4 linked regions of the Homo sapiens genome follow. The protein of the gene in region 4 interacts with the protein of the main gene of each other region in a pairwise test. Each region holds a gene or a part of one and is shown on either strand. Other genes may lie near its edges.

What was found.
Region 1: the proteins of PLSCR1 (region 4) and RGS3 interact in binary tests that used the Homo sapiens proteins (3 or more experiments, as listed by UniProt).
Region 2: the proteins of PLSCR1 (region 4) and LGALS9C interact in binary tests that used the Homo sapiens proteins (3 or more experiments, as listed by UniProt).
Region 3: the proteins of PLSCR1 (region 4) and ESR2 interact in binary tests that used the Homo sapiens proteins (3 or more experiments, as listed by UniProt).

The regions. Positions count from the first base shown.
Region 1 is NC_000009.12:113,592,716-113,598,255, reverse strand, and holds the end of RGS3 (regulator of G-protein signaling 3), read right to left. Parts: intron 4,128-5,540; exon of another isoform or gene 3,980-4,127; coding exon of another isoform or gene 3,918-3,979; intron 3,827-3,917; coding exon 3,725-3,826; intron 3,338-3,724; coding exon 3,276-3,337; intron 2,658-3,275; coding exon 2,491-2,657; intron 1,489-2,490; coding exon 1,303-1,488; 3' UTR 518-1,302; downstream 1-517. UniProt on the Homo sapiens protein: Down-regulates signaling from heterotrimeric G-proteins by increasing the GTPase activity of the alpha subunits, thereby driving them into their inactive GDP-bound form.
Region 2 is NC_000017.11:18,472,068-18,479,815, reverse strand, and holds the start of LGALS9C (galectin-9C), read right to left. Parts: upstream 3,028-7,748; 5' UTR 2,962-3,027; coding exon 2,923-2,961; intron 1-2,922. UniProt on the Homo sapiens protein: Binds galactosides.
Region 3 is NC_000014.9:64,277,356-64,284,383, forward strand, and holds part of ESR2 (estrogen receptor beta), read right to left. Parts: intron 5,721-7,028; 5' UTR 5,631-5,720; coding exon 5,269-5,630; intron 2,799-5,268; coding exon 2,626-2,798; intron 1-2,625.
Region 4 is NC_000003.12:146,534,589-146,541,616, reverse strand, and holds part of PLSCR1 (phospholipid scramblase 1), read left to right. Parts: intron 1-436; exon of another isoform or gene 437-460; coding exon of another isoform or gene 461-483; exon of another isoform or gene 484-2,865; intron 2,866-3,572; exon of another isoform or gene 3,573-3,621; intron 3,622-5,051; coding exon of another isoform or gene 5,052-5,064; coding exon 5,065-5,077; intron 5,078-7,028. UniProt on the Homo sapiens protein: Catalyzes calcium-induced ATP-independent rapid bidirectional and non-specific movement of phospholipids (lipid scrambling or lipid flip-flop) between the inner and outer leaflet of the plasma membrane resulting in collapse of the phospholipid asymmetry which leads to phosphatidylserine externalization on the cell surface.

The sequences.
Region 1 (5,540 bases), on a different chromosome or scaffold from region 4:
GCCCACCACCACCCTTCCTGAGATTCTGGCCCCGTCTACCTTCACCAGCCATCCCTGCACCACGTGAAAGTTCTATTCAAACCTCAGGGTGTGGCGAGGCAGAGAATTGAAGGAACTTGCTGAAAGACATGTGGCCAGCTGGCGATAAGCAAGGACTCCATCCTGTAGCCGGCAGAGCCCAGGCTTTGCAGACAGTCAGACTTGGGCTGAACCCCTGCCACCTGCTGGCTACGTGACCTTCCCTGTCTGTGCTTCCATCTCCTCATCTGTAAAATGGGGATAAGCCCTACCTCCCAGGCTTGGGGAGGAGATGCAGTGACCACTAGGATGAGTGGCACAGTGCCTGGCACAGAGGAAGGCATGGGAGAGCAGCCCTCACCAGTGTATCAGTGTATCGGGCTCCAGGATGGGGGCAGGTGATGGCAAGAGAGCAGTGGCTGAATCAACAGCCCAACGACCAACCCTCCCAGCCCCAGCCACCCTGGGAAGGCTCAAGACCAGGAACACACAAAAAGGGTCAAGAACAAGAAATAACACAGGCCTTTTATTTGCTCCAGAACTTGGCTACTGTGTGGTCTGAGGGTGCCATGCTTTCCCAAAGCCCCCGAGGGACACTCCACCCAGGGGGTGCCAGATCTCTGTGTGTAGCCAGACTGCAGTGTCCCCCCAGGCTGCCTTAGTCCAGAAGGCCAGCTGCCTGCCACCGGTGCCCGGGACGAGCATATCCCCTGAAGCTGGAGAATGGTGTCCACCTTTGCATGGCAGCTTCTCCCAAGGCATTGGCTAAAATATTGCACTTGTAAATCAGGAAAACTGATGAGGCAAGGGTTTCCTATTACAGGACGACGTGCCAAGCATCCAACTACTATTTAAATAAATAAAACTCAAAGTGGGGGTCTGAGCTGCAAGCTCCAATGGCCCTCTAGGAGGGCCCGAGAGCCCAGGCCTGGACCTCCTGCCCCATCAGCCAGTTCTTTAAGGAACTTGGTCAACGCGAAGCCTCCGCGGTCTCCGCAGCAGGGAGCAGCAGCTCCAGATCTGGCTTGGCCAGGGCCCCTGACCTGCCAGGGTCTTGGGCCCCCTCGTACCGGGGCAGTGGGGACCCCACGGGGCCCATCCTTCTACTCCTCCAGTAGCCTGGGCCTCTCTTGGTCCAGGCCTCGCTTCCGTATGTCTATCCGTCTGTCCAGAGACACAGCCTCTGGGGGCTTGCTTGCCCCCTCCGTCACAGGGGGCAGGGAGGCAGGTGGGCAGGGGACCCAGCCCGCCTGGTGTGAACGCTGAGCTCGACTCCAGTGGCCCCTAAAGCGGGGGACTCATCTTCTTCTGGTTAATAAGGTCCAGGTAGAGGTCAGAACGGAGAAAGCGAGGGTACGAGTCCTTTTCCATGAGCCCGAAGATGCGCTTCTGTGCCAGGTCGAAGCAGCCCCGCGTGACGCTCTGCAGGTTGTCCTTGGTGTGCTCCCGCGTGTAGGAGTCCAGGTTGACCTGGGGAGGCAGAGGGGGACATGGTCAGGGCTGCCTGCTGGGGACTGACCCTAGGGCCCATGTGCCTGGAAGGGACCCATCCAGCCTCTCACCTCCAAGCCCCTTTGCCCCACATCTTAAGGTTCATCTGAAGTAGAGACCCTCAGACCAGAGGATTCAAGTCCTGGCTCAGTCATTTCCTGTAGGGCTGGCAGCATTTATAAGGCTGAAAATACCACCCTGAGGGTTAGGCTTCCTGGGTTCAAATCCTAGCAGTGCCACACCTGGGTGTGTGACTTGAAGCAAATTACTTAAGTGCGGTGAGCTTCAGTTGTCTTATCTACCAGCTAGGAATAATAGTACATTCCTCAAAGCGTGAAAACCAAGCAAGATCATCCATATAATGTGCTTTGCGCATAGTGCCTGGCACACAGTAGGCACTCAATAGATGGGAGCAATTATGATTTGTCTCTGTCACTCAGGCTGGAGTGCAGTGGTGCGATCTCGGCTCACTGCAACCTCCGCCTCCCGGGTTCAAGCGATTATCCTGCCTCAGCCTCCCGAGTAGCTGGGACCACAGGCGCCCATCACCACACCTGGCTAATTTTGTAATTTTAGTAGAGATGGGGTTTCGCCCTGTTGGCCAGGCTGGTCTCGAACTCCTGACCTCAAGTGATCCGCCTGGCTCGGCTTCCCAAAGTGCTGGGATTACAGGCATGAGCCACTGTGCCCAGCCTGTCTCTTCGTTTCACAGGTTGTTGTGTGGATTAAACATGAGAACGCATACATAAAGGGCTCAGCACATGCCTGGCATGCGGCAGTGCCTTGGTGGTGGCCATTTTTATTACTAACTGGGATTCTGTTCTTCCCCTGATCCTAGCTTGCATCTTCCCTGCTGGGTACCTGGGCTCATGGAGTCATTCTGGCCTCTCCCCTTCCTGTGCTGCTGGCTGCCACCTTGCAGCTGAAGGGCCACTGGGCCCTGGGGATTGGAGGAGCGGAGGGTCTGCCCTGAGGTCCTACCTCCTTGCATGCCTGGATCGCGATGTATTCAGCAAAGATCTTCTTGGCCTTGGATGCCATCTTGGACTGTGACTTGACCTTCTTGAAGTCCTCACAAGCCAACCAGAACTCCAGATTCTCCTCACTGAACTCAGTGCGAAGGAAGGCTTGGAACACTGCTAACCCGTCTGTGAGGAGAACGGATCCTGGGGTAAGAGGCAAACTCAGCCTCTCCTGCCCTTAAGATGCCTCAGCTTACCCCTACAGGACTTTAAAGATGGGCGTGCTGGGAGCTGAGTACAATGCCCGTCCCCGACAGCCAGGAGCCCTGGGATGTGGCCCCAGCCCTGCCACTGCCTCTTTCAGGGTCTCAGTGGGGTCTCCCCCTCTCTATGCCTCAGTGTCTTCATCTGTGAAATGGGGACTATCGATTCTGTCTCCCGGAGCCCTGGGAGGAGCCGATGGGACCCTGCCCATGAGATGGCAGGCACATTTGGCGCCGTGAAAGCCCTCAGTACGTAGAAATGTTTATTCTTATTCTGGGAATATGGATCTGAGCACACAGGTCCCACGGGCCTCCGGCAGGCAGTGCCAGCTCACATGGACGGGGAGGGGCTGGCAGAAGCTGGCTCCAAGGCCAGACCAAGGGCCTCAGCTTGGGCTCAGCCCCTCCGCAACAGCAAGGACACCCTGACGGCCGAGGAGAGGGAAGGCGGCCTCTCTAGCACCAGCTACACAGGGTCTGGATGGGGGCGAAGGGGAGAGGGAGAGAGGGCACAGGGAGTGGGCAGGCAGGCCCAACTTACATTTGTGAACCAGCAGCTTCTCCAAGGACTCGCCCCACTTGAGGGCTTCCTCTGAGGTGGGCCTGAGGGGTGAGGGAGGAAACACAGTGAGGGCACTGAGAGGCTTGGGAACCTTGGGGGAAGCTGGGCCAGGCGGCCTTTGTTTACTGCCCTGGGCCCAGTCTGCAGCTGAGCCCAGCTGGGGCGCCCAGGAAGGAGGCCCACCCTCTTTCCCGGGGCCAGGGTCCCTTCCAGCCCCCATCTCCACCCCACCTAGCCTTCCCCCTAGGGCAGCTGCTCCCTGTGAGGGTAGCTGCTTGCCAGGTACCCAGCTCCCTCTGTGAAAGCCTGTCTCCCCCAGAGCTGGATCAAGCCGGCAAGCCCCTTCCCCTCAACCCTACCACTCAGTCCTACTCCCCGGGGAGCCAGTGAGTTCCCCAAAGGGTCCCAGGGTGCCAGGGAGGACCTACTTGAATGACTTCATCATTTTGTCTGCCTTGCCCGCGGGAGGGGCTCCAGGGGACTCATTCCGCCGTCTGAAGATCCCCAGCTTGTTCTTCATGTCCTTGGCTCTGGGGACAGAAGCAGAAAAGAGGGTTGCTCAGCCTGGCCCACTCGCCCCTGCAAATCCAGAGTCGGGAGAGCTGGGTCGAGGGCACCTACTCCTTCATCGTGTGTCGCCTCTGCAGGTTCCCGTTGCGAGTGAGGTACATGCCTCGGAGCATCTCTGTAGGGCCCCCCACCTTGGGGCCGCAGATTGGTCTGTAGGAGGCACCACTCTGGCTCCTGTCCCCCACCCCGCGTCCTGGGCAGCGGGCAGCAACGGTGCAGGCTGCAGCCACACACGCTCTCTGGAATCCTGGCCTGATGACTGGACTCCCAGGCACAAGCCGGGGCTGGGACTCAGACAGGAGGAGCCAGGAAATGGGAGGGACCAGGAGGGGGAGCGGAAAAAAAAATTCCTTCTGGCCAACCCTGAGAGGGAGCCGTGAAAGGGGCATGTGTCTGCAAGGGACAGCCTCTGGGGCCGCCCCGGCAGGAAGCCAGTCCCAGCTATTTGTGACTGGCCTCCTCGTTACCATGGCAGCAGGGAGACAGTGGTGGGGGGTGGGGGACAAGTCAGCAAATTGCTGAAAGGGAAGGAGGGAGCCAGGGGAGGCACTGCCCACCACCGGGGTGGCAGGACTGGCTATTTTTAGCCAAGAACCATTTTTAGCCTTGCCGGTCCCCAAGGAGGCAGCAGAATTCAGCACTGGGTGAAACTGCTGGCAAGAAAGGAGTTAAATGCCTCTTGCTCATGTTCGCCCCTCTTTTCCCTAGACCCCCTGTACAGGGCACCTCCCAGAGAATGGCTCCTGCCAGCCGGCCTCTCAGCCTCAGTCACCTGCATTGGCGACATCCAGTCATGAATATACAGCAGGACCCCAACATCTTAGTAGTTTTAAGCCTGAATAACTTCAGAAGTACAAGTCCTATAAACTTACAAAAACACCATTTTAAAGTTTAATTATTTAATGTTGTGTGCATGGTTTTGTGATTTTCGAATAATAAATGTTTCACTTTAAGTTTTGGTCTCCATCCTCCCAAAGATGGAAAATGCTGACTCAAACCAAAAATGAAAATGAAAAATTGATTATTCAAAAATCACATAACTAAAGACGTGCAAAAGAAATTTAATAATTAAACTTTCAAGGGGGTTTGGTAAGTTTGAAGCATTTATACTTCTGATGCTATTCAAGCTTAAAATGGCACTAAGACCTAGACACCCTGTCTAATGAAGGAGAGTCCTGCAGGGGAGGCTGATCCCAGGCTCTGGAGCTAGTCTTGGGTTCAAATCCCAGCTCCAGCAGTTACCAGCTGTGTGCCCTTTGACACGTTTCCTGATCTCTCAAGTTTCCTATCAAGGTTTTTTCTCTGTCAAGCTGTTTCCTCAAACAGAAGCCAGCAGGCCAGGTCTCCAGGTCCCAACCCCACCACTTTCTTGCCATGTAACTTAGCCTCTTTGCACAGTAGTTTATTCACGTGTAAAATAAGGGTAAGGTCAATAAGAAAGAACAGAACGGAAAATAAAAGTAGTGGTAAAGATTAAATTAGATTACATATGAAATACACACAGAACAGTGCGGGGCATAATAAACATTAATGGTTATTCTTATTATTACCGTAGATGTTCTAAGACTCTTCGTCTAAGCTTTTAAGAGTATGACCTTCAGAGGCCAGGCATGGTGGCTCATGTCTGTAATCCCAGCACTTTGGGAGGCCGAGGCGGGAAGATCACTTGAGGCC
Region 2 (7,748 bases), on a different chromosome or scaffold from region 4:
AAGGAGACAACCTTGCTCACACGATGATTTTAACATCTGCCCTCCAGAATCATTAAGAAAGCAAATTTGTTGTTTTAAGATTGGCCAGCCAAGGCTGCTGTGGAATTTAGATCCGTGTGTCCAGGAAACCCAGGAAAACAACTGGACCTACTTTTGCTCCGTAGGGTGCAGGAGGATGGATTTTTGTGTTGGATTTGTGGTCCCATGGGCCTGGGCTCGCCTCCCAGCTCTGTACACTAGCAATTCTGACACTGGCCAAGTCACTTGACCTGCCTGTGCCCCACTTCCCTCCTCTGAATGGCAGGGCAGTAACACCACCCGACAGTGTTCTGGAGAGGACTGGAAGCAATGCTGTGTGCTGAGTCCCTGGCTGGCAGCATTCTGGAGAGGACTGGGTGGAATGCCATGTGCTGAGCCCCTGGCTGGCAGCGTTCTGAGAGGACGGGGTGCGATGCCATGTGCTGAGCCTCTGGCCCATGTCGGCCTTGACAGTGCAGCTCTTTGCATGGAACAAATCAATCCCTCTGCTGAGTCAGAACTTACTCTCTGTTCCTGGTTGTGCCCAGAGACCGGGGACTTTCCCTCTTCTTCCTACCTGGAAGTCAAAGCAGAGCTGAGCCCTGCGGACCAGAATGTGGGCAGCCTCATTCTGGACTCAGCATCACCAGAGGACACCAAGGCCTGGCCCCAGGAGTAGGGAGCTCAGCCTGGCTGGCCGAGACTGCCTGCCAGCTGGAGCCAGTACGTGGCCCTTAGCCAAAGTGCCCTGTTGCCTCAGAGGCTCCACGGTCCTGCTGGCCACCTTTCATGACACTTTGATTTTAGCCTTCTGACCTCCAACACTGTAAGCACAAATGTGTTGTTTTAAGTTGGCCAGCTAAGGCTGCTGTGGCATTTGGATCCATGTGTGTCCATGAGGGCTCTGGGGGTGACCGGGAACATTTATCCTCACAGCAACCCCGGCCACTTTTACAGATGAGGAAACTGAGGCACAGAAAAGTTCAGTCACTTGCCCAAAGCTACACAGCTGGTCGGCAACAGAGCTGGGATTTGAACCCCAGCACCCACGCTTCTAACCACCACACAGGCTTCCTCTCATGAGGAAGCTCGGAACGTCCTTATTCCTGGCTCTCGCAGTGCTTCCTGGGCCACACAGCAGGTGGTTCCAGCTTCCCCCCAGCCCTCCAAAGAGGCTGGGCTAGATGAGGCCAGACAAGAAGTGGGAGTGAGGTTTCCAAGCCAGGCCCTCATGGCACTCAGCCCTCCTCAGCAGGACATGAACCGCGTGACCTTCCCCCACTGTCGGCATGTGGAGAAAGCGTGACTCCGACTGCCAGATGGGTCACCGAGTGAGGCTCAAGTGTCCCAACCCAGGGGAGCCCCCGTAGGGTAGAGGGGAGCTCTGGACACCTGTGGGGGCTGCACTGATCGTCTTTCTTGTCTGAGCTCCAAGGCCCCGCTTTAACTCTCTCAAACTCTCTGATGTGCATAGGAGGATTTTCCTTCTGAATCCAAAGATTAGAAAGTAAAAACCAGTTACCAGAATAATAATATGTCAGAACCTGGAAGAAGCTCTGGGATCCCCTCTCTGACAGAAAACCAGAAATGGGGTGACATGCTCAAGGTGGCACACGCTGACCCTAAGGCTCGCCCAACACCGGCAGCCCATTCCAGCTTCCCCCACTCCCTCTATGCAGGTTCTACCTTGGGGGCTTCCATAGGGTGGCTGAGGGGTCATTGGTGACAGCCAGGAGGAAACAGGCCTCCTTTCTCCATTCTTCCTCTCTGGAGTCTAGAAAGCAGAGCTGAGCTCTGCAGACCAGAACATAGGCAGCCTCATTCTGGACTCAGTATCACCAGAGGGCACCCAAGCCCAACCCTGGCCTCTGCTGAGGTGGCCCCTGGCAGCTTCCCTGCCCTCAGCACCCTGCCTCTGCCCACCCTCCCCATTCTGCCTCCCCACTCAGGAAGGGCCCATCAGCCCACCCACTCCAGCCCCTCGGGAAGCTCTTTGCCAAGGCAGGGTGAGATCCTGTGACAGGACCCAGCCCAGGACACAGTCACCCCTGAAGGCTCCTGGGCTCCTGGGGCTGCCACTCCCATCTGGGGGCATTTGGCAACTGGCCTTTGCCTCCCTGAACCTTGGATTTTCCGTGAATGAAGGGGACTCATAAACCTCACAGAGTTTCAGCAAGGCACCTGCAGCCCTCTGACCCCACACTGCAGGGACAGTCCCTGCCTCCGTCACCTCTGAGACTGTCCGTCTACAGATGCCCTGACATGCCTATGCCTGGTTAACTCCGCCTCACCCTTCAGAGCACAGACACCTCCTCGGGAGGCCTTCCCTGCTGCACCCAGACTCCCAATAACATGAAACACTCCCAAAGCACCTACAGTGTGTCAGGCACTGTTCAAACACTCTAGATACACTACTTCCTTAATCCATATCCCAACCCTGGGAGTGGGGGGCTCAAGTATTATTCCCACTTCACAGATATGGAAACTGAGGCCCAGAGACCACCAGCCAGTAAATAGCTGGACCCAGGGAGGCCAACTCCACAGTACGCACCCTTAACTACCATGCCGGGTAGCATCCTTACTGTCCCAGAAGCATGCTTGCTTCCTCTTTACACAAACCATCCCACTCTACACCTCTTCCCCTGAGCGCACAGGACAGGACAGGACAGCTCAGCCAACACTGTCAAACCCATGACTCATGGGAGGAGCATCTCTCCAGGCATGAGTGAGCTCAGCATGGCACAGCTGTGCCAGGACGACCCCCACTGACATTTCTGCCCTGCTTGTGTTCTCTTTGGGATGCCCCCACCCCTATCTCCTGCCACCCAGGAGTTGCTTCCTCAGAGCCCCAGAACTGTGTCCCCCTGGCTGAGGCAGCCCTGTGCCCACGGCCCCGGAACTCACTGGGCTCAGATAGGGAGCCTGGCAACCGCTGAAGGCCATCTCTCCACCGCCTCTGTGGCCACCACTGCCTTTGACACCTGCCAGGCAGTCCTTTGCAGAAGGAATGACTTAACAAAGTAATAGAAACCAAAGCAACTTGGCTGTTATTCAATGGGGAGGAGCCGGCAGCAAGAGGAAGTGGGTCCAGAGAGAGAAAGGTAGGGTGTTGGGTGAACTGGGGTGACACTCATAGAGGGAAGTAGGCACTCCCAGCCCCAGTGACCTTTCCCTCCTCCCTCTCCTGTGCTCAACCCAAGCCTGAAGCATATTTGGTTCATAGAGGTCTACAATGCTTGACCACACTGACATGACAGTGAGTTGCCAGATGACACTGCCCAGAAGTATGTGGCTGTGTGTCCTAAGCATGCTTGGCCACTGGTTCCAGAAAATAATGGGGCTGGGTATTGCCTGTGCACAGGGTGCTTGTGGGGAAGGGTGGCTTCAACTCATTTTACATATAGAGAAGCTGAGGCTCAGAGTCTGAGGGACATGCCCCAGGTCACACAGCTAATTCGTGGCAGCCTGAGCTATATGAAGATTCTCAGAATCTTCAAGAAGTATTTCTCCTCTTTAAATTTCTATTCTTCATGTTAAAACATAATTATGTAGAAGGGAATATTTTGCATGAAAAACACTATAATGAAGATTTTTATTCTAGAGTATGGGGTGCCCAGGAGCTTCTGATCCTCCCCCTCAGTGAATCTCTCTTTCTTCTCTTCTCCATCCTTATTTTGTGAGCTTTAGGATGGGGAGAGAAGTATTGGACATAATAGAACATTTCAAGTGACATGGGAGTGGGAAGGAACATATGGCATGAACTGCCTTTAATTGGCTTCAGCACCTAGTTAGGGGAAATAATTGGCTGAAACAGAGAATAACAGGATAGGCTGCAGAGGGGAGAGGGAGCCATGAAATAAACTTACCTGAAGTTGACCAGGTCCCAACGATGTGCTGGCGAGAAGGCCCAGAACTCAAGCTGGGGATGGGCGGGTAAGGACCATACAGGCTCGAGGGGATGGCAGGTGCCCCAGGGCCATACGTAAGTCTGCACCTCTCTTCCTTCCTGTGTTCTGCCTAGATGCACTAGAATTTGCAGACGAACTCCTTTGAGATGTTCCCATAGACTGAGGCCGTGTGTGTCGTCTGCACTCACCATCCCATTATGTTCTGGATCAAGTAGAATTTGACCAAGTTAAGGAGTAGACAGTACAAGGGGAGCAGAAAGGAGAGAAAAGAAGGGAAATTCTTTGCAATCCTCTCGAATACCAGGAATATTTTCATCACGTCACGTCATTTGTAGCAATCACCAATTGATTGGGATATGGAACAACTGGAACTATCATTCATAGCAGACTTGAGTGTAAAATAATCCAACTTAGAAAAATGGGCAGGGCGTGGTGGCTCATGCCTGTAATCCCAGCCCTTTGGGAGGCTGAAGTGGGAGGATCACTTGAGTCCAAGAAGTTGAGACCAGCCTGGTCAAGATAGGAAGACCCTGTCTCTACATATAATTTAAAAGGCAAATTAGCCAGGTGTGGTGGTGCACACCTGTGGTCCCAGCTATGTGGGAGGCTGAGGTGGGAGGCTCACTTGAGCCCAGGAGGCCGAGGCTGCAGTGAACCCTCATCACGCCACTGCACTCCAGCCTAGGTAACAGAGCAAGACTCTGTCTCAAAAAATAAAAAAAATAAAGAGAAAGAAAAACTGCTTGGTGAGTTGTAATATAGTCAAATATCTACTTCAAAGTTGCTGGCTTTTCTACTTCTGAAAAATTACCCAAGAGAAAGGAAAACATATTTGTCTGTTTTTAAAAGCTTTACTCGTCATAGCCCCAGGCTGGTAACAATGCAAATAGTCACCAACAGAAGAAGGGAGAAATGAATTGTGGTTTTCACACTACAGAGTGGCCCTCAGCAATAAAAAGGAGCTAGGCCACAGGAAACGTCAATGAGCCTTGCAACTGAGCGGAAGAAGCCAGATCCAAACAGACACATGCTGTGAGAATTCCATTCGAGTCAAGTTGAACAACAGGCTAGAGTGGCGTTACCCTTGGGAGTCACTGACTGGGAGGGGCACGAAGGAGTCTTCGAGAGGCTGGAAATGTTCTGGATCTGGTTCTGGGTGGTGGTCCCACAGGTGTTTACATCCATTAACAACAGGCTGAGGCTGGGTGCAGCAGCTGACACCTGTAATTCAGCACTTTGGGAGACTGAGGCAGGAGGATTGCTTGAGTCCGGGAGTTTGAGACAAGCCTGGGCAGCATAGCAAGACCTTCTGTGTACTAAAAATCAAAAAAATTAGTGAGGCATGGTGGTGCATGCCTGTAGTCCCAGCTACAGGGAGGCTGAGGCAGGAGTATTGCTTGAGCCTGGGAGGCTGAGGCCACAGTGAGCTATGATCGTGCCACTGCATTGCAGGTTGAGTGACAGAGCAAGACCCTGTCTCAAAACAAAACAAAACAAAACAAAACTCAAACAGAAAACCAGGATCTGTACATTTTATTCTACCTAGACAATATCGCCATAAAATACTGCTAAAAGAAAAAATCTCCCAGAGCCCAAGGAGACACAGGCACAGCTAAGAGTTCCAGCAGTTTAGCACCTTAGCATCACCTTGAGCCTTGGAGGTGAGTCACAGTTAAGCAGCTTCACTAGTGAGTCCAGCCCATAAAGGAGGGCCCTCTGCTCCATGCCCTGTCTGGAGGGGCCCCAGTAAGGTCATACCCAAAGGCTGACATGTTTTTAGACTAATCAACACAGTAGGGAGGCACTTCGAGGCACAGTGCCAGGCCACTGAGAGTTCTGACTTCGGCACCCTTCAGTCACCACAATCCATTCCCAGTGGTTAGCTCTGGTCTTCAGGAGACTAGAAGCAGCCCTCGGGAATGTTCGTGCTCAGAGCTCTAGTGTTCAAAGTCACAGACCCTTCTCAGAGGCTCTCTCTTCTCTGCCCTATAGACTGAGGGAGTCTGCCACCTCACACTCATTAGGATGCCTATGATTAAAAAAAAAATCCAGAAAATAACAACTGTTGGCCAGAATGTGAGTAAACTGGAACCCTGTGAAAACAGCGTGGCTGTTCCTCAAAAACCTCATCATAGAATTACTATATGATCCAGCAATTCCACTTCTGGGTATATCCCCCAAATAACCAAAAGCAGGAACTCAAAGAGACATGTGAACACCCACGTTTGTAGCAGCATCATTCACAAAAGCCAAGAGGTGAAAGCAACACGTGTCCATCAACGGATGAGTGGTCAGCAAAATGTGGGCCAGACATACAATTCAGCCCTAAAAAGGAAGGAAATTCTGGCATATGCCACAACATGGATGGTCCTTGAGAACATTAAGTGAAATAAAACAGCCATAAAAGAACAAGCACTGTAGGCCGGGTGCGGTGGCTCACACCTGTAATCCCAGCACTTTGGGAGGCCAAGGTGGGAAAATCACCTGAGGTCAGGAGTTCAAGACCAGCCTGGCCAACATGGTGAAATCCCGTCTCTATTAAAATTACAAAAAGTAGCCAGGCGCGGTGATGAGTGCCTGTAGTCCCAGCTACTCGGGAGGCTGAAGCAGGAGAATCGCTTGAACCTGGGAGGCAGAGGTTGCAGTGAGCTGAGGTCACACCACTGCACTCCAGCCTGGGCAACAAAATGAGACTCTGTCTCAAAAAAAAAAAAAAAAGAAAAAGAAAAAGCACTGTATGATTTTACTTGTCTGAGATACCTAGAGTGGCCAGAATCAACAAAAGAAAGTAGAATGGTGGTTAGGGGCTGGTAGGAGGGGGAATGAAGACTTATAATTTAATAGGCATAGAGTTCTGGTTTTACAAGATGAAAAGAGTTTTGCGGATGGATGGTAGTGATAATTGTATAACAGCATGAATGTTCTTAATACCACAGGTCTACCACTTAATATTGGCTCTTGGCTAAGATCTTAGCTGAGGCCATTGACTGGAACACCTGCAAGTGGCTTTTCCACATGGCTTGGGCTTCCCCACAATATGGTGGCTGGAGTCCACGGGTGAGCATTCCCAGCGAGAGCCAGGTGGAACTTACATCCCTTTTATAACCTAGCCTCAGAAGCCATCCAGTGCCATTTCCACCACATTCTATTTGTTGAGGCAATCACATGAGCACCACCCAGGCTCAAGGGGAGGGGAAAGTGACCTCACCTCTAGACAGGAGGCAGCAAGAGGTTGAAAGAGCACCTGGGACCAGGAATATTTGGAAAATTCAATGCCTGCCGCAGACAATAAGTAAGTGCTGGACTCCTCTGGGCACTGGGGTACAGAGAGAATTGGACATAGTCCCAGCCTTAAGCATCTCATATTCCAAAGGGTAAGATGGATATACAGCTGGGCTACATGGCTTCAAGGAGGAAGTGCACACAGATTTTTTTTTTTTTTTTTTGAGACAGAGTCTGTCTCTGTCGCCCAGGCTGGAGTGCAATGGCGCCATCTCAGCTCACTGCAAGATCCCCCTCCAGGGTTCAAGGATTCTCCTGCCTCAGCCTCCTGAGTAGCTGGGATTACAGGCACCCACCACCACACCCGGCTACTTTTTTGTATTTTTAGTACAGACAAGCTTTCACCATATTGGCCAGGTTGATCTCGAACTTCTGACCTCAGGTGATCCACCCACCTCGGCCTCCCAAAATGCTGGGATTACAGGTGTGAGCCACCGTGCCCGGCCAAGATTTTTTGTTAAAGTTAATATAGTTGGTTATGTGCTGGACATCATTCTAGGTGTCTTACAATTAACTTTATGTCAGTTTTATGAAGCAGGC
Region 3 (7,028 bases), on a different chromosome or scaffold from region 4:
TGGCTCACACCTGTAATCCCAGCACTTTGGGAGGCCGAGGCGGGCGGATCACAAGGTCAGGAGATCGAGACCATCCTGGCTAACATGCCGAAACCCTGTCTCTACTAAAAATACAAAAAATTAGCAGGGTGTGGTGGCCAGCTCCTGTAATCCCAGCTACTTGGGAGTCTGAGGCAGGAGAATGGTGTGAATCTGGGAGGCAGAGCTTGCAGTGAGCCGAGATTGTGCCACTGCACTCCAGCCTGGGTGACAGAATGAGACTCCATCTCCAAAAAAAAAAAAAAAAAAAAAAAAGTTACATGCAAGGAATTTCTCAATACTGTACCATCCTGGCCTATTTGAGACAATTTTAAAAATAAGTGGCCACTTTCAGTTACTGTAATGCACTTATATCAAAGACAGGAAGCATGCAAAGAAAGGATCATTTAGGCACTACAACTGTACAACTGTAACAGCTTTAACTCTTTCCTCTTTGCACATTTAGAATTTGACATTCCTGTCTGATGCAGCAGGAAGGAAGAAACAACATAGAGAAGCAAAGGAAATTTACTTTCAATTGTTATTAGCTGTAGTCTCAGGGGTCAAAGATGTTTCAAGCAGACCAATGTTTCCCCAAAAGCAAAAAAAAAAAAGAAGGATCTCTTTTTAAAAGATATGGTTAGTAGTAATAGGTCCAAACGTTCTTAAGGGGTAAAATCCTAGAAACTCAGCAAGATACAAAATAGTCATCGTATCAAGAATTCAGTTCAGAATTTCAGAAAATCAATATTGTTCTTATCATATAGCCAGGAAATGGACTTGGCCTTATAATCTACTGTTAAGATTGTCACAAATAAAATATTTGAGCACTGAATATGTTTTCATATAATCAACCTTATTTCATCTTTAGAAAATCCCTATGAGTATCTCCATTTCACAGAGGAGGAAACAGGCTAGGAGGTGAAGTCGCAGAGCTAGTAATTATAAAATCCAGGACAAAGAGGCTGCCATTCATACAGGGTGAATTTCAGGGGACAGGTAGGAAGGTGACTACCAACATTTCACTCCTCACCATATCCTGGATTCTATCAGTATTTCTCTGCTTAAGGTAAAACATCCTCTTAGAGTTATCAATGGGTGAGTTAATTTAGTAAATTGCTATTTGCCATTTACACACTATGAATTCTCTCAACGTTGCTTTTCTTAACTGGCAAAGAACAAAGCATTGGGGCTTTGATAGAAAAAGGAAGGGAGCTTTCAGATGGAAACATAGGGTGTTGCCTGGGAGGGAGCAGTTGAGGGACAGGTTATGGGGCAAATAGAGAAAACAAGAGTAAGCAAGAAAGTGACTTCAGCAAATCAGGGCTGGTACGAGAGAAGGAGTGTAGCAAAGACACATGCAGGGAGATGAGCTGACCAGCCTTGAAATCAGGGGTGCACAACTTGAAGTTTATAAACCAAAAAATAAAATTCTAAGGCCCCTCAACCATCTGAATGGGTCCCTCCTCTTGGCCAAGGGCATTACAAAGTTAACCTGAAAAATAAGTTTAGGCCATGATGGAACAAGGGAGACAGACATGGTTCATTATACCCTCCCTCCCCTTTTGGAATCACTGATAGAACAGACCCTTTAAGACCCCTAAGAAATATTTACAATCTATTCTCTCTGAAGCCTGCTACCTGGAGGCTTCATCTGCATGATAAAACCTTGGTCTCCACAATCCCTTATTGTAACCCAATCATTGCTTCCTACTGATAATAATTCTTTCAATCAATTGCCAATCAGAAAATCTTTGAACTGCCTGTGACTTGGAAGCCCCTGCTTTCAGGTGTCCTGCCTTTTCAGGCTGAATCAATGTACATCTTACATGCATTGATTAATGCCTTATGTCTCCCTAAAATGTATAAGACCAAGTTGTGGCCTGACCACCTTGGGCACATGTTCTCAGATCTCCTGAGGGCTATGTCACAGGCCATTTGTCACTCATATTTGGCTCAGAATAAATCTCTTCAAATATTTTACAGAGTTTGATTCTTTTCATCAACAAGTTGATTTAAAAAAAAAAATCCAGAAGGCGTTTAGAGAAAGTTAGGGAAATAATCTAAACACAGCCCAGAAAACAAGGGGATTGTGAACTGAGACCCTCCTAGCCTAGGGGAAGAAATGTGTCTAGATCAATTCTCAAAGTCCACTGTAGCTGAATTCCTGATTTCTGACCATTTCCAAAAAATGTGTTTATTCTTTCTTCCTCAGGAGCCAGCCCACCATCATGACTGTTAAGCATGCTATATATTAAATTTAAGTAAAAGAAAGAAACAATCTTTGCAACTCCTTGTGAGCACATTTTTTCCAAGAGACATCTTCACAAGGTTGTAACTCGATGTCTTCTATCCAACACCCATGTGGGTGAACGAGGGGTAAGACCCATTCGAGTTGGCTGTATAATCTTGGGGTTCTGGGGTAGAAATCTGCAATTCCACCCCACCACCCAACCCACTTCCAAACACACATGATCCTCTGAACTGCTCATCAAATACTTTGTGTGCCAAACAGGCCAGTAGTGACATTTCTGCCAAGTCATCTCTGCAAAATTGTTTGAAATCAAAAGTAGGAAACTAAAGAAGCAGTTAACAATTCTCTTGTACCTTGAATGCTTCTTTTAAAAAAGGCCTTACATCCTTCACACGACCAGACTCCATAGTGATATCCCGATGCGTAATCGCTGCAGACAGCGCAGAAGTGAGCATCCCTCTTTGAACCTGGACCAGTAACAGGGCTGGCGCAACGGTTCCCACTAACCTTCCTTTTCAGTGTCTCTCTAGGGAGCAAAGAAAATATCCATTGAACAGAGCATAAAAGGGAAAGGAAGGGCTTTCTAGGAAAAAAAAATAGCATGAACATTGCCTAATTTAATCTCTTTTTCCTCCAGGGTTCCTGGTAAATATATTCCCGGAAATCTGATACAGCAAAGCTTTTGATACTGATATCATATCTACAAAGAGCCACGCTGTGGGGAATGACTAATGTTTGAAAGTGGGTAGGTGAGTTTATGCCCATCCACGTGATGCTGATGAGCATTTGTCACTGCCGAAGACCAGTCATAGCCATGGGGTGGGAGCTACATCTCTAAGTGTAATGAAAGGAGTGGCCAGATCAAATCTTACCCACAGGTCTGAACCACAGGCAGGATATGCATTGGTCTTCTGTAGTTACTAGAGTTCACGAATGCTGCATGGATGGGTGTGAAGGCATTCAACCACTTCCAAACATCAGTCATTCCCAACAGCATTGCTAAGCAGCCCTTCAGACATTTGAAGTTCCCATTTAAATGGAGAACAAACATCTCACACTCTGCAATTTCAGATAAAGGTCTAGATTTAAAATAACTTTCAGGTTGGGCGCAATGGTTCATGCCTGTAATCCTAGCACATTGGGGAGCCAAGGTGGGCGTATCACCTGAGGCCAGAAGTTCGAGACCAGCTTGGCCAACAAGGTGAAACCCTATCTCTACTAAAAATACAAAAATTAGCCAGACATGGTGGTGCACACCTGTAATCCCAGCTACTTTGGAGGATGAAGCAGGAGATTGCTTGAACCCGGGAGGCAGAGGTTGCAGTGAGCCAAGACTGTGCCACTGCACTCCAGCCTGGGCAACAGAGTGAGACTCCATCTCAAAAAAATAAAATAAAAATAACTTTAAGAGGAATAACAAATGGACTTTAAGTTACCTTGAGATGAATGTGAGACAAGAAAAAGGGGGAAGAGAAGAGAAAGGGAGAGAGAAAAAAGAAGAGAGAAGAGAAGAGAGAGAACAAGCAAGTGCCTGGCCTGGAAAGGCTTGGAAGGAAGCAGAGGCTCAATGCTGGACCACAGGCAAGAGGTTCATAAAGGAACGAAAAGTCTAACAAGGGATCCCCAGGCAGCCTCCAAAACACATCTGGCTAGTTCCTGATGTTGCCAGGCATGGTTCTTTTGGAAAGGGAATGGTAAAGGTATTATTGATTTATAAATGAAGGTAATTATATAATGGATTAATTTGCCCAAAAATTAGCAGAACTTTGATTATAATTCATGCTCAGAAACAAAATATGTCTTCCTTTAAAGGAGGAAGGAGAAAAAAAAAACAAACCATTACTTTAAAAAAGTTATCCACAATGTTTATATTCTCTTTACCAATGAGTAAAATGTTTTTAAAAGAAGAAAAATAATGGTGCAATGTTACTGTCTCAAAGTTTTATGATAATATTTGAAAGTAGTGAATTTCAATATCCAACATGCCCTTAGTACTTTTAGATTTTTATCTCCCCCTCTCCTTTCTCATTATACTATCCATTCCCTTCATACCTATGATTATCATTAGAAATATTAATAATTAGATGGAAATAATCCATTATGTTACCTTGCATTTAAAGAGTACACATATCCTTTTTAACTTCAGGGAATGTCAACTGAAGCCTAAACTTCAATAGTTTCCACCAATCTTTATATAATGTTATTATTTTAGTTCATGGTTAAAAAGCTTATACCAATCATCTATCTTTTCATGCTTCGCATGTCTAGAATTTCATTTAAGTTGTAATACTATCACAGTTACTTTTATCCTGGAAACAATTTGTCATGAACATTAAATTGTGGTTTCACTATAAGAAGACTTTGAAACTGAAAGTAAAGTAAAAATTCATTTTTCAAATCCAAATAACTCCATTAAGAGTGACTTAAGTTCAGACCAGGCACAGTGTTCATCACGTCTGTAATCCCAGCACTTTGGGAGGCCAAGGCAGGTGGATCATTTGAGGTCAGGAGTTCAAGACCAGCCTAGCCAACATGGTGAAACCCTGTCTCTACTAAAAATTTAAAAAATGAGCTGGGCGTGGTGGCACGCGCCTGTAATCCCAGCTACTCGGGAGACTAAGGCACGAGAATTGCTTGAACCCAGGAGGTGAAGGTTGCAGTGAGCCGCAATCGTGCCATTATACTCCAGTCTGAGTGACAGAGCGAGACCCTGTCTCAAAAAAAGAAAAGGAGTGACTTAAGTTCAGTATTTACTGTATAAAGACAATAGTCATGATAGCAAATTCTCCCCACAACACTGATGTACACATACCAGTTTTTAATGAGAACTAAAATATCAGAATAGAACAGGGCATCCTGTGTTTTGGGTGCTGTAAGTAAACTATGTAATTAATACAATAAAGACCTTGTCTAACATATTATTTCCTTCTCACTCAACCATAAAGTGATTTGAGAAATGGCTAGCAACTATAATTCAGAATGAAGACTGGACTTACCTGTTTACAGGTAAGGTGTGTTCTAGCGATCTTGCTTCACACCAGGGACTCTTTTGAGGTTCCGCATACAGATGTGATAACTGGCGATGGACCACTAAAGGAGAAAGGTGCCCAGGTGTTGGCCACAACACATTTGGGCTTGTGGTCTGCCGACCAGGCCCACCTTCCAAGTTAGTGACATTGCTGGGAATGCTGTAATTCATCACAGCAGGGCTATAGAATGTCATGGCTGGATATTCATGGTGGCTGTCTACATAGGAGGAAGGTATGTATATGGAGCCGTGCTCCAGGGGTAAGATGGATTGACTGCAGTTGTAGGAGGAAGGAGAATTAAGGCTAGATGGTGAGTTTTTTATATCCATGTCTTGAGATAACAGCTGAGAAAACACCTTGCAAGAAGAGGCACAAAGGTCATTATAATGTTCTCAAAGATTCGTGGGCAAGTATAATGGCTGTAAAGAAACACAGAAGATATTGCCAAGTTAGAGCTACAGCTGTTAACTATGAAAATTTAAATATTTTCATTAAAAAAATACATACGTTTGTATGAGATTACAAATACATCCTGAAAAATATACATGAAAATATTAACCTCAGAGGAGTGGGAATGTGAGGCATGAAACTCACATTTTCTGCTTCATTCATCTCTTCATTGCTTGTTTGTTTAATCAAGAGTTTAAGCACAAGAGTTTAATCACGAAAATTTATTATAAAATAGTCTTTAAAACCAAAAAACACAGGATTAAATAAAAATGAAAGTTCTTATGGAAAAATAAGCAAGAATAACCAAGTAAACGCTAAGAGAAGATCAATGAGCAAGGCTAGTCTCAACCAATATTAAAATACGCTATGAGGCCAAGCGTAGTGGCTCACGCCTGTAATCCCAATACTTTGGGAGGCTGAGGTGGGCAGATTACTTGAGGTCAGGAGTTCGAGACCAGCCTGGGCAACATGGTGAAACCCCGTCTCTACTAAAAATTAGCCAGGAATGGTGGCATGTGCCTGTTGTCCCAGCTACTCAAGAGGCTGAGGTGTGATTGCTCAAGCCCAGGAGGCAGAGGTTGTAGTGAGCAGAGATTGTGCCACCGCGCTCCAGCCTGGGTGATAGAGTGAGACCCTGTCTCAAAAAAAAAAAAAAAAAAAAAAAAAGAGAGAAATTACCATTTCCGAAAAAAGTTTTTAAAAGAAAGAAAACACATTATGAATCTCCAATAATAAAAAACAATGGGTATTAGCTGAAGAGACTGACCAGTGTAACTGTGTCACTTATCAATCTGTTGCTTCTCAGTTTTGTTTTGTTTTGGTTTTGTCTTTGTTTTTGAGACAAGGTCTCACTCTGTCACCCAGGCTGGAGTGCAGTGGCATGATCTCGGCTCACTGCAACCTCCTGCCTCCCAGGTTCTAGTGATTCTCCTGCCTCAGCCTCACGAGTAGCTGAGACTATGGGTGCGCACCACTGTGACTGGCTAATTTGTTGTATTTTTTAGTAGGGATGGGGTTTCACCACGTTGGCCAGGCTGGTCTCAAACTCCTGATCTCGAGTGATCCACCTGCCTCGGTCTCCCAAAGTGCTGGGATTACAGGCATAAGTCACCATGCCTGGCCTACGTATCAGTTTTGAATGTGCCCTTCAATTTATGCTCTAAAAAACAGAATTTTTGTATGTAAAGTGAGCACAAGGCTGGGGGTGCTGGCTGATTACAGGCAAATCTTTTTTTTTGAGATGGAGTTTCACTCTTGTTGCCTAGGCTGGAGTGCAA
Region 4 (7,028 bases):
TTTTAACAAATTTCACTGAAGGATGTCAGTCTTCCTTTTTTCAGTGAATTAGAGACATCGGTGCAAAGAATATGAATTATTAATCATCTTAATTCAGCTAGTTAGCAAGCTGTATCACATTTATTAAAATCACTTTTATTTCTATGGGTTTAGTTTCACCATTTATTAGGAGGAAAGGAAGCAAATTTGTGAGGGAGCTCTGGGTTGTCAGGAAAGGCTTTTCAGAGTAGTAAAGCAATCAAATGAGAATAACTGATTCAGTATTTGTTTCCTTTGTCTCTTTGGTTTACTTTTTAGTTTTGTAGAACACTTGATCACTACCATCTCACTTGGTCCTAGTTGATGTATCATCTACATTTTTATTCAAGGTTTAATATAAAATGCTATAAAAGGCTATCCTAAACTGGTTTTAAGCATATTTGTTTTGTTTGTTCAGCATAAAATACACAAGAGGATTTTTATGGAATGGCTCCTTGTTACAAGGTACTTTGCATTTATAATCAGCCACAGTCACCTCAGTTTCATCCCGTATCTTACAAGTATGATGTGCTGTATACTCAAAGCCTCACCACCTGCTTGCCCCACCCATTTGCTTAAATGTATCAATTTTTTCTAAGCTTAACTTTTACCAAAACTGGAGTTCAACAGATGAATATTTTTCCTTCTTAGATGTTAACTAAACATTTTTAAAGGTACAAAATTTATGTACAAACATAACCCAAATGACATGGAAGTTACTTGATTTGTGACTTACCTCTGTAATGTTCCCCTGGCCTACTTGAAATTCCTACCTTTCCTCTAGTCTAGTATCTTATTCTCAGTTATTCGGAGGAAGTTAGGGACCTAGAATTCTTGTTTTCAGAGCAGTAGAATTTTGCTAACATAATTCAAAACATTTATCCCTATCTTGGGGCTTGAAGAGAATGTGAAATGCTTTATCTTCTGTTTTGAGGGAATGAGGGAAGGAGCTTGTTCTTAGGCAATTAACAAGTAAATTTAAATAAATAATCCAAATCTGGTGTGGGTAAACAAATTTTAGTTTTAGGAACTTTCAAAATTAAGTATGCTTCCCCTTTGGGTTCCAGATTTTACAGTAATACTTTTTGAAAGCAGTAAGATAAAAATTTCAGGACCTCAAGAGATGGGTCAAAAGAGTTTCACTGTAATATGAATTTTGAAGCCAGAACTGGAAATCCCCTGTGCTGTGTCTTCCTCTTCGTGGTAGTAGAGGTTACAGTTATCAAATAGTCCAGAGAAGCAATGGGAACTTATGATTTCTGATAGAAAAATTTTAACAGAGATGTACTTGTATGCAAATAATATATGATGCCTCAGTTTCCTCCAAAGTCTTAGTTAACAGAGTTAGAAAAAATCAGATTATATTTGAAGTTCTGTGTTCATACTGGAGTAATTATTATTCCAATGGTACAATATACAACATAACTTTATTACATTTTTTGGTACAGCATAAAGATGATTTTCCCTTTCTCTGAGTATTTCTGAAATTTAAAATGAAATAAGTGTGGTAGAAGCCATTATTTATGAATTATCATGCTAAATTAATTAACTCATTAATTCATTCAGGGCACACCCAGTTATTCCCCAAACTGAGTGATGTATTTCTGGGAATAGACTTATTAAGCTTGAGAAAACCCAAAGGATCATTATAACAGCAAACAGGAATGTAGGCATCCACATAGTGGATGACTTTAGTGACCTGGCACACAGTGCCTTATCTACTTGGCACATGTACAGGTACAAGGAACACTTAACATTTTGCACCAGAGCTTATTACATACCACTTTCAATGCTTGAGATATTATATAAATGCTAAAATTCTAAAACCTATAGTAAAGCAAAGACCCAGATTTTATACTGCAGTAGTTTTGCCAGTAAGTCTCATCCTCACTAACTTATCTTTTAAGATTAAAAATAATGTAACCAAGTGGGAAGAAAAAGAGCAAATATGAACAAATTGTCATTGTTTTAGAATCTGCTTCTTTTCCTTTCCGGTATTTCTGTGCAAGGAGAGAATGATCTCTGACCTTGTGAAAGGCAAATACCATGTGTATTCATGGTTGTTATTCATTTGGCAACGACTTGAAACTCATGACACTCCCTGCTGAAGATCCTCCACCTATTCTTAACAGCTGGGCTCCCCAGCTCCTGGATCACCAACCAGTACCAGTCTGTGGCCTGTTAGGAACTGGGCTTGTACAGCAGGAGCTGAGCAGCTGGAGAGTGAGCAAAGTTTCATCTGTATTGACAGCTGCTCCCCATCGCTCACATACATTACCACCTGAGCTCAACCTCCTGTCAGATCAGCAGTGGCATTAGATTCTCATAGGAGCAAGAACCCTATTGTGAACTGCATGTGTGAGGGATCTAGGTTGCGCACTCCTTATGAGAATCTAATGCCTGATGATCGGTCACTGTCTCCCATCACCCCCACATGGGACTGTCTAGTTGCGGGAAAACAAGCTCAGGGCTCCCACTGATTCTACCTTATAATGAATTGTATAATCCTTTTGTTATATATTACAATGTAATAATAATAGAAATAAAGTGCACAATAAATGTAATGCGCTTGAATCATCCCAAAACCATCCCCTGCTTCACTGGTCCATGTCTTCCACAAAACCGGTCCCTGGTGCCAAAAAGGTTGGGGACCACTGTTTACCAGGATGCATAGCATGGGTTTATGAATTCCCTATCTTTGCAGCACATCCTTTATTTCTGGCTTGCATGGGACTTGAAAGCCTAAAACAACTAAATGCTAAGAAAAATTATTTTTAAAATGATGACAAAAATATTTTCTATTTCAGATGTATAGATCTGCAATCCAGAAACTATGAATTTTTTTCAGTTGAGTAGTCTGTTTGCCAAAAAATAAAAAAAAATAAAAAATAAAAACTTGCCTAAGTTTCTTCTCTTACATTTTATTTAGGATTTGCCCTTAGACATTATTTAGTGCTTTTCTGACCCTGTAGGGACGGTGAGAATAATTGAAACACTAGTTTCTTAAAATTTCTGTTAAAATTGGTTAAAGGCCATAGAATTTTTTTTTTAAGCTAAGCATGTTATAGAGAGGTATCCTATAAGAAGCAAGGGGCAGGTAAAGACTTTAGAGATGTATAGTCCAGTGTGTTAATTAAAGGATACTACCTACTTCTAATTCGGTATGTATTAATCTTTTCTGATATATCTGTTAAAGTACTCTTCGCATATTTTTAAAAAATTGGCATTTTAAAGTATAGTCTTTGATGGTAGAAATGTGAGATTGACAAAAATCATGTCCTCTTATGTATGAATTTAGTCTTACACAGTTCTTCATATGATGGAATCTAAAACAAATGTAGTCTTGAAAACTTTTAGTCTACTTTGGTTACATGTGTTTATTATTGCTCACCTTATAGATTAACAGCAGAAAAGTATAAATTTTAATATTTCTACCTTTCTGGCTTGAGGTCTACAGCATTAATTTCTGACCAGTTAATGCAAACTGAGATTCCTATTGTCCTAAGAAAATCTGGGAAGTTAGTAACACAAACACATCTTTTGATTTATTTCAGGACCACATAAACCCATTTTGAATTATTCAACCATTGCTGAACTTCTTGAGTATGTATAATTAAGAGTTGACTATAATTGGAATGTTCTTAAGACTTTAAGTTGATTATAAAATTTTGTGCTTAAAGTTGGCAATAATCAAAACAAAACAAACAAACAAAAAAAACCCTTTATTTTAAAACACAGTCTTGCTCTGTCACCCAGGCTGGAATGCAGTGATGACATCATACTTCATTAGACCGTCAATATTCCAGGCTCAAGCAATCCTCCCACCTCAACCTCCCGAGTAGTTGGGACTACAAGCGCATGCCACCATGCTTGGCTAATTTTTTTTTAGTAGAGACAGTGTCTGTCCATGTTGCCCAGGCTGATCTCAAACTTCTGGACTCAAGTGATCCTCCTGCCTCAGCTTCCCAAAATACTGGCATTATAGGCATAAGCCACCATCCCTGGCCAAAAAATAATTCTGAAACAGCAAGGAGGAAGGCGGTTTCTTCTTGGGAAGTCTTGATTTTAGTTGAGCATGTAGAGGGATCACTTGACTTATTAACCACTTAGGATTGCACAGTAAGATAATTTAAAGGGTAGCCAGCACTGGAGTGGGCCTGGGAAGGGGATGGGCAGTTTGTGTTAGTGTGTGTGGGTCCAAGATAAAAATGTTGGGTAGCAGAGTTTTGCCTAATGCATTGTCGCTAAAAGGGATGAAGGGCATCGGGATCTACAGGAGATGGAAAAAGTAGTGACAGGATAGTAGTGGGAAAAACTAGGATCGGATCAAGGCACTGGAAGGCAGAAATATTGAGTAGAATGTTTGCTGCAATTTATGTTTCTGTATAAATACCGAGTACAAAGTTTCACTTGGGTGGTCAAGGTGCTATGGCTGTGACAACTCCTGAGAGTGGGTTTTCTGGTTAAAAAAAAAAAAAAATCTCTGAATGCACGGAGTCGTCTCAGGCCTTCTCAAATTTGCAAAGAACAGGTCCACAAGACCTACATTTCCCAAGATAATTGCAGTAGTGTGACCTGATAATTAACATTTTTTGCTTTCCTGCTGGAACATTCCTGGGGCCCAGAGACTGGGCCAAGCATTTCCAGTCCAAAGACTGGGAACTGAACCAAGCATTTCCTTTAGATTGTTCAAGTTGTGAAGGTTGATGTTATTAGCTTGGTTACTACTTGGAGTCTTAGCTCATAGTGTGTCTTTATGGCTTTCTGCCTCACTGGACCCTCTTCCCAAAAGGCTTTAGAATGTGTTCACCATCATGAGCTGACCAACAATTTCTAAATTCCTACTCAGAAACACAGCAAGGGGAATGCAGTCAAGCACAAAGGGCTTAAATGACCAGATAAGGCTGGGCTGGATGAATAAAGAGGAATATCCTATGAATGTGACTGTGTAGTTTTAGAGTATCCCGATTCAACTGTTATATTTGACTTGTGGCCTTGTAGACAGTGTGTTAATGTCAGATCTTCTTTTTCAGAACTGTTTTAATCATGGACAAACAAAGTAAGTAATTTATTTTAAATGTTTACTTTCCTCCTTATAATGTTAATCTGTTGGTAACTTGTTATTTGTCATAATGTTTTATTCAGTGTCTGAAAGTGTATAATTTGTTTTCTGTTGTTTATGCTCCAGAATACAATGTCTAGTTCAGTATTTTGACTATAGAGAAGATGTACAAAAATAGCACTATCACTAGGTTCTTCATTAAAAATACGAAAGCCTTTTGGAAAGCTAAGAAATGCTAGATTTATTGGGAAATATGTTCTGTAACATATATTTAAACCACAACAATATTCTCTTTGTGTATTTTATATGTATAAAGATTATTCAAGTCATACTAATTAACAGATAATAAGATTTGAGTTCATTGTAATAAACTCCTCAGATACACACCTCAATGTATATTTCATCACAGACACATGTTTGTATTTTAAGTAAATACCAGTCATTATGTTCTGGCTTTTTTTCTCTCAAGAAAATTCTAAGTAAGATGGATATTTATCAAGCAAGTAATAAAAGACTGTCTTATTAAGATATCAAGGTTCTGAAGAACAGAGGGAAAATTATGTTCAAAATTCCCACTACATAGGGAAAATTAAATTCAAAAATTAAATCCTGTTTTTCTGAAACGCTTTTCTTTATTCTCTCTTTCATCTTTGTTGAGGTAACAAAAAAATATTTATCTGTCACTACAGTGTCACCCTTATTAGATATATGAAATAATCTCCAGGACTAGACTCCTTGCTTTTCCCATGTGAAGTTTTATGATTTTCTTTTTACTTACAAAACTCAAAGCTTTTTAAATGTAAATTTATATAGAATTATACTGGTTTATTTGCCACAGACTTTAAGTTGATTCCACTCAATTTACAAAAATGTATCTGGTGATGGTCATAGGCAACTTTTAACTCTTCAGTTTTGTATATATAATTGTATGTATGTATGAATGTATTTGCATAAATAGAAATAAAATGTGTATATGTGTGTGAATAAATGTGTAAATATGTATATATACATACATGTAGACATAAAAAAAAGTACCTTTAAGACAATGTGATAGACTTGTACTTCTTATAAGCCATTTTAAGTTGCATTTCAAAAACGCAGTAATCAAACCATAATTAACATGCTCTTTGTTCTGCTTGAACACCTGCCCATTCACTCATTCTCCTTGTATGAATTCCCCCTGGAATGCCTGAAATCAGAATCATTGCTTTGGTACCAAAAGCCCAGAGATTGTGAGCTCATGATTTCTTGAGTCTGTCTGTTCCTGTATATGTGTGTGTGTGTGTGTTCTATGTTATAGTATTCAAACAATGTTGCTTATTAAGAGGTATCACAATGTGACATACCTGTCAAGGGTAGATCTTTACTTCAGACTTGCAAAATATTTTCTTGAAATCTATTCTGAGTCTGATGCTGTGTTTCCAACTTAATTTGGGAGTAGGGGCTGCAGGCAGGGCCTTATTAGCTAGAGAACTAGGGAGTTAGGTCAGTCACTTGATGCTGAGAAATAGAAGAGAATGGATGGGAAAGAATGATGGGGAGTTTCAGAGATTTGTGATGATTCACAAATCACAAGGTATGTTGCAATGTTTGTCCAGGGAAAAGTCCTCATTTGTTTTTTGTTGTTGTTTTGTGTTATTTATTTATTTATTTATTTATTTGAGATGGAGTCTCGCTCTGTCGCCCAGGCTGGAGTGCAGTGGCACGATCTCGGCTCACTGCAACCTCCGCCTCCCGGGTTTAAGTGATTCTCCTGCCTCAGCCTCCTGAGTTGCTGGGACTACAGGCGCGTGCCACCATGCCTGGCTAATTTTTGTATTTTTAGTAGAGATGGGGTTTCATTTTGTTGGCCAGGCTAGTCTTGAACGAGTAGGAGAGCGGTTTTTTTGCCTGATTTTACACAATCACCATGGACTGGATTCCGCTGAAGTCATCATGAAGCTATTTA